2 linked regions of the Homo sapiens genome follow. The gene in region 1 interacts genetically with each later gene. Each region holds a gene or a part of one and is shown on either strand. Other genes may lie near its edges.

Evidence for each region. A genetic interaction does not mean that the proteins touch.
Region 2: changes in ARL5B (region 1) and VPS45 together harm fitness less than expected from each alone (positive genetic interaction), as found in Homo sapiens cells (one large-scale study listed by BioGRID).

The regions. Positions count from the first base shown.
Region 1 is NC_000010.11:18,665,931-18,669,430, forward strand, and holds part of ARL5B (ADP-ribosylation factor-like protein 5B), read left to right. Parts: intron 1-644; coding exon 645-705; intron 706-2,599; coding exon 2,600-2,747; intron 2,748-3,500.
Region 2 is NC_000001.11:150,070,776-150,074,275, forward strand, and holds part of VPS45 (vacuolar protein sorting-associated protein 45), read left to right. Parts: intron 1-1,390; coding exon 1,391-1,451; intron 1,452-3,500. UniProt on the Homo sapiens protein: May play a role in vesicle-mediated protein trafficking from the Golgi stack through the trans-Golgi network.

The DNA of each region.
Region 1 (3,500 bases):
AAAGGAGGAAAGAACTGAAGAGATTTTCATTGTACAAAGAGCAGAAACAGAATCTGCTCAAAAGAACTGTAGAAGCCGGTTGAAAAAATGTTAAACAATGAGTAATTGTGTAAAAACTTGAGAGTATATGTTTGTCTTTGTGACACATGAAACGTTTCAATTTTAAGCTTACATGGGATTTTTAAGTGAGAGGAAGAAACAGATCCTGGTATACATAGGTGGGGAAACTTACAGATATGAAAACATTTTGATAAAAAGCTAACTTGATTGGTACAGAGCTAAAAAGGTGTGTAAAACAGGCTTTTTAAAAAACTTACATTTAGGTTATAATTTTTGCCTAGATTAATATTTGGGTCTCCTCTCCCCTAGATGCAATATAAGTGACCAACTTTGCTGGTGTTTCCTGCCTACCCATCTCCCACATTCTTTTACATGAGAACTAGACAGAGAATCAATGATAATTGATTTTGTTACTTAACCTAGGTAGCCTTAACATCATAACATTTCTTTCTGCATTTTAAGTCTAGTGATAGATATTCAGTGAATGATTCTCATTAATGAGCTAACTAATAATCATTGTTGAAAGCATGTAATTGCAGTAATGCAGTAGTGTTAAATGTTTATGATTTGCTTTCTTTTTGTAGAACACAAAGTAATTATAGTGGGACTGGATAATGCAGGGAAAACCACCATTCTTTACCAATTGTAAGTATGGGTGTTTATTAAACAGTTTTCACTAGTTATTGAAACTAATGTGTTTACAATTAATAAGAGATGCATTATAATAATGACGGAAAAACTTAAATATATGTTTTTTGTTTTTTGTTTTTTTAATTTTACCGAACACAATCTATAGAAAAGTGAGTGAAATAAACATTTGCTAAACCCTTCACAAACACTTATTGTTTTCTGCCCTCGAAAGAAAGAAATTAATATTAAATAAATAAAGCGCATATTAGAAGTGCTGGGGTGAGGTGATAAAGTGGATTTCACTTAGTTCTTACCCCACTTGGGTTTATGTAAATAAATTGATAGCTCTAGGAAGCCATTGCTACCCTCCTGACTAATAGCTTTGGAATTTTTTAACATAGCCAGACTTGTCAAAAGAAATGTGATCACTCCTGAAAATATTGCTGTAGTAGCTTGCAAGAGGGAGAGTCTTGAGACTTTCAGAGAAATCTGTTAATACCTTAGGAAATTTTCACAGCTCATCATTCCACTTGTCAGAGTACCTTCCATTATCCTTTCAATGCCAATGAAATGATAGTATTAAGCAGTAGAAGTGGATCTACCAGGCACTTTAACAAAATAGTTCTACAGTTCTTTGCCCCATTGTGTGGCTCTTACCTCTTCCCACTCATGTTGCATTAGAAGACAGCCATCAGCTCACCAGAAGTACTTCATTAGCCAGTGATTAACGCATTTTTCAGCTACTTTGCTAAAAAGCTACTGACTTAAAGTTTGTTGTTTCAGAGTTGAACAACTACTTGTTTCTCTTGAAAACATTTTCATTCATTGGTGATTATGTGTTTAAATATGAATTAGCTTTTAAACATCACATATAAACATTTCAGAAACCTGTCATCTTTGTTGAAATAATTTTACACATGGCTTCAAAAATATACATAAAACCCAAGAGAATTGCAAGCCTCCTCCAACACAGTAGTGACATGTTACTGGCAAGGGCATATTTGTTGAATTAATTGATTAATGTAGCTTTACCAATGATTATGATAATACGAGGGGTATGAGCATCAGTATTCTAAATATATATATATATATATACACACACACACAAACACACACACACACATATTTGAGACAGAGTTTTGCTCTGTTTCTAAGGGTGGAGTGCAATGGCGTGATCTCCACCTCCCAGGTTCAGGCGGTTCTCCTGCCTCAGCTTCCAGAGTAGCTGGGATTACAAGCGCCCACCACCACGCCCTGCAAATTTTTGTATTTTTAGTAGAGACGAGGCTTCACCATGTTGGTCAGGATGGTCTCAAGTTCTTGACCTCAGGTGATCCACCCAAAGTGCTAGAATTATAGGTGTGAGCCACCACACCTGGCCTTCTAAATATATCTATAGTTAATTTAAATTTTTACTTGCCCATGGTCATCTTTTTAGGACTACTTTAGATTAATATGCCTGAATTAATTTTTGTGACTAAGTCTCAATTTAGACAGTCTTCAAAATTATAGATAGCCTGCTATCCAATATTTGCTATTTTGCAATCACCTAGAAACTTGCTTTTCAGGATGGCATGGGACATTGGGTCTTATCTAACTGATAACAGGGCATGGTGGTATTGGAATTTTTGGCCACAGAAATGCAAATTCACACCACACTGTTTCCTTTCTTTTCCATCAAGCTTGCAATTCCTTCCGTTAAAAAAAAAAACAAACAAGAAACAAGTCTTTCTTCTGGAGTTGTTATCTAGATATTGATTTGCGCAAGTGTTCTCCAGGTTTATAATTTTCATGCTAATGATCACCATCATTGGTGCAGAAGGTTGATTGATCTTAAAAATACAGAGATAAAAGTTGCTTCAGATTCTCAAGATTTACAAGAGCTTTTACGGTGTCTGTTTTTCAACAGCTTAATGAATGAAGTGGTTCATACTTCTCCAACCATAGGAAGCAATGTTGAAGAAATAGTTGTGAAGAACACTCATTTTCTTATGTGGGATATTGGTGGTCAGGAGTCTCTGCGATCATCCTGGAACACATATTACTCAAATACAGAGGTATGCTAAGATGAATTTTGAATTTTAATCCAAAGGTCCCTAGAGTAAACATAGAAAGTAATTAGGCTGCACCTGGGCGTATTGACAGTTGCCTTTTTTTTTTTTTTTTTTAAGACGGAGTCTTGCTCTGTCGCCAGGCTAGAGTGCAGTGGAGTGATCTTGGCTCGCTGCAAGCTCCGCCTGCTGAGTTCAAGCCATTCTCCTGCCTCAGCCTCCCAAATAGCAGGAATTACAGGCGAGTGCCACCACACCCGGCTAATTTTTGTATGTTTAGTAGAGACCGGGGTTTCACCATATTGATCAGGTTGGTCTTGAATTCGGGACCTCGTGATCCACCCTCCTTGGCCTCCCAAAGTGCTGGGATTACAGGCTTGAGCCACCGTGGCCGGCCTTTTAATAAGATCCTTTTTTGTAGGGAATTTGGGTTTCCTTTTTTTAAAAAATAAATAAATAAAAATTTCATAAATGAGACTTAAGAATTTGGGTTTTCGAATAAAAGAAAAGGCAAATAGAAAGATTGTTTGGAGCTATTATTACTTGAGTGCTTACTGTTTGGCCAGGTTCTCTCCATTCATCTTCACAAGATTTTCATGTCTCCAGGGTTGGAGAGATCTGACACGTGGAGATATTATGTAGGTTTCCCCAAGATCTCACAACTTTCTAAGAGACCCTGACCGGTGGAGGAATAAAATATTTTATTAATTTAAAAATTTTTTATACCATGAACATTCAAAATGTTGGTAGATTTTTTTT
Region 2 (3,500 bases), on another chromosome or scaffold:
TCCAGCCTGGCGACAGAGCAAGACTCCGTCTCAAAAAATAATAATAAAATAAAAATTAAAAATAATTTTTAAAAAAGAATCTTTCCTTTTTCTTTTTCCTCTTTTATATATTCTCTTTTGTCTTTTTCCACATTGTCTGAACTTTTAAGAATCTTTTAATTCACTTTGTTATTTTTGCCTAGCATATTACGAGGAAGTAATTGAGGTTTAAAAGATTTATTATTTAAATTTTTTGCCTTAAGATTATATTATAAAGTTAATTTGAAATCTAAATTGCATTTTTAAATCTAAATTACAATTTTTAAAACCCTTTCCCCATTAATAAGCAGTATATATTGCTTACTTTTTTTTAATTCTGTAAAGAAATGTGATTTTTAAAACAAATTAATATGTTTAGGGAACAATTTATATTGAAATTTAACCAGGTGTTATAGTATCAAAAACCAATAAAACCTGCATTATAATCTTATGTAATTGGAATCTTATATTTTGACCATATAAAAATCAACTTTTTTGTTTTAAACTTTCATACTTTATTTTAAAACAATGTAATTGTAGAAAAGATCTTAGCCTGCTACTTGCAAATACTTCACAAACATTGTAGTTGTGCAGAGTCTTACATCCCAATAAGTTAAAAGCCAAAGTGAATATAATTAACTTTATTTTCTCTTGCATGTTAATTTTTAAAGGAATAGACACATTTAATGCTCTATATAGGAATTTTGATCAGGCCAGGCGCAGTGGCTCATGCCTGTAATCCTAACACTTTGGGAGGCCAAGCCAGGTGGATCAGTTGAGGTCAGGAGTTCGAGACCAGCCTGGCCAACATGGTGAAACCCCGTCTCTGCTACAATTACAAAAAATTAGCTGGGTATGGTGGCACAAACCTGTAATCTCAGCTACTTGGGAGGCTGAGACAGGAGAATTGCTTGAACCCAGGAGACGGAGGTTACAGTGAGCCAAGATTGTGCCATTGCACTCCAGCCTGGGCAACAGAGTGAGACTTAATCTCAAAAAAAAAAAAAAAGAATTTTGAGCAAATGAATACAATTTATAGACAAGCAGCTTGATGTGAGTTTGCAGAATTATAATCAATTTTATGTTGTGTTTCAACATCTGTGTCCTTTATATTCTTTATCTTAATTGGCCAAAATGCAGCTGGTTAATATTTAATATTATACACATATTATTAAATAATATATGATTCCCGATCATTGTATTTAATTTATCTCTTTTGTCTCCAGCCCTTACCCACCAACATAAGCACACTTAACCTAGACTTCAATATGCAGTAGACGCAGTAAATAAACAAATCAATGGGTGAATGCTTATTACTTTTTTCCTTAAGCAACTCTCCTCATATTTTGTTTGCTTGTTCTTCATTTTCTAGGAGAATGTGGATTATATTATTCAGGAGCTCCGAAGACCCAAATACACTATATATTTCATTTGTAAGTATGTTAGTTCACTTTTTCAAACATGTAACAACATCCCAGTTAGTGTGTTTCATTGAGCCCTTCATATCATCAATAACTTCATTGAATCTGTCACTATAAAAGTCTAGTTTATTTAATGTCCTTCCAAAGTATTAAAAATCTTTTGACCTGCCGGGCGCGGTGGCTCACACCTGTAATCCCAGCACTTTGGGAGGCCAAGGCGGGCGGATCATCTGAGGAGTTTGAGACCAGCCTGACCAACATGGTGAAACCCCATCTCTACTAAAAATACAAGATTAGCTGGGCATGGTGGCACATGCCTGTAATCCCAGCTACTTGGGAGGCTGAGGCAGGAGAATCGCTTGAACCGGAGAGGCGGAGATTGCAGTGAGCCGAGATTGCGCCATTGCACTCCAGCCTGGGCAACAAAGCGAAACTCCATCTCAAAAAAAAAAAAAATACTTTTGACCAATATTCTGTTTCAGAGGGCTAAATGTGATTTCCATTCATCTTTGATTGCTTAAATTAAAAATTTTACATTTTACTTTGCCTTTCAAGATGCTTTGTAAGTCAAAAGTTTTAAGTAGACAAATTTCACATCTCACCCCTGCCAAAAAAAAAAAGTATATACTTATCCCTGTTTTACACTTAAAAATTGAGGCATGGAAGCTGATTTATTTTTTGAAGTGGGAAGGTAATACTTGAGTTTGCTGGAAAAGCAGAAATTTACTTTACATACCAGATAAAAGCCTTTCACTTCTCTTTGTTACTATATTTAATGCACTGAAAGTATAAATCATCAGGTAGTGATCTCTTATGTGCACAACTTTCTTGGAGTGGGGGTTAGGTAGGGGAGATCTGGAAATAAACTAGGTTTGTGTTTACTATACAATTTACATGGATTTTTTTGATCCAATACATTCGGCTGTAGAAGTTACATCTATTCTCCTCTAGATGTCATTATTTATCTTTATGTTAATAGTGTTAGTGTAGTCTATTTGGTAACATTTCCAAAACCAAGGACTAGATTTAACAGTAAGTAGGGCATTTGAGAAGTTTTAAAGCTTACTTAAAGGTATTAGAGTTTTAGGGTTTAGACTACAGTCTAAGACGTACATACTTTCTTCAGCGTATACTACTTAAATAGAATAATGATACAAAAAATTAACATTTGCGAAAAGACTATATATATATAAGAGCTCTCTCATATTTTATTTCATTCAGTTCTGTGTAGAATTGAAAAGTTACATAAAGCTTGTCCAGTGGGTTTTCAGTGCACGACGCCCCAAGAGGTAAAAATAGGCAATTTTATTAATCTGTGGCAACTTAATTTTTGTTTGTTTTTGTCTGTTTGTTTTTGGCTAATAGTCACAGGTTTTCTTTTTAAAATTAAACTTTCTATTTTGAAGTAATTGTAGATTCATGTGCAGTTAAAAAAAAAACAACGAATAATAATACAGAGATCCCAGATACCCTTTACCCAGCTTCCCCCTGTGTAGTATCTTACATGATGATAGTACAATATCACAACCAAGATGTTAACACTGATACAGTCAGGATACACAACATTTTCATCTCTATAAGGATCCCTTTTATTAGCTTATATGGACTTCTGTCCCACCCCAACCCCCTCATTAACCCTGGTAACCACTAATATTTTCTCCATTTTATATTTTGTCATTCGAAGAATGTTCTATAAATGAAATCATACAGCATATAATCTTTTGGGACTGGCTTTTTTCACTCAGCATAATTCTCTGGAGAGTCATCCAGGCTGTTCTGTGTGTGTGTGTGTGTTGTTTTTGTTTTTTTTTTTTGTCCGAGAAGCAGTCTTGCTTTGTCACCCAGGCTGGAGTGCAGTGTCGCCATCTCAACTCACTGCAACCTCCACCTCCCGGGTTCAAGCGATTCTCCCACCTCAGCCTCCCGAGTAGCTAGGATTACAGGTACACACCACCACGCCCAGCTAATTTTTGTATTTTTTTTTAGTAGAGACAGGGTTTCACCGTGTTGGTTGTCCAGACTGGTCTCAAACTCCTGACCTTGGGTGATACGCCCGCTTCA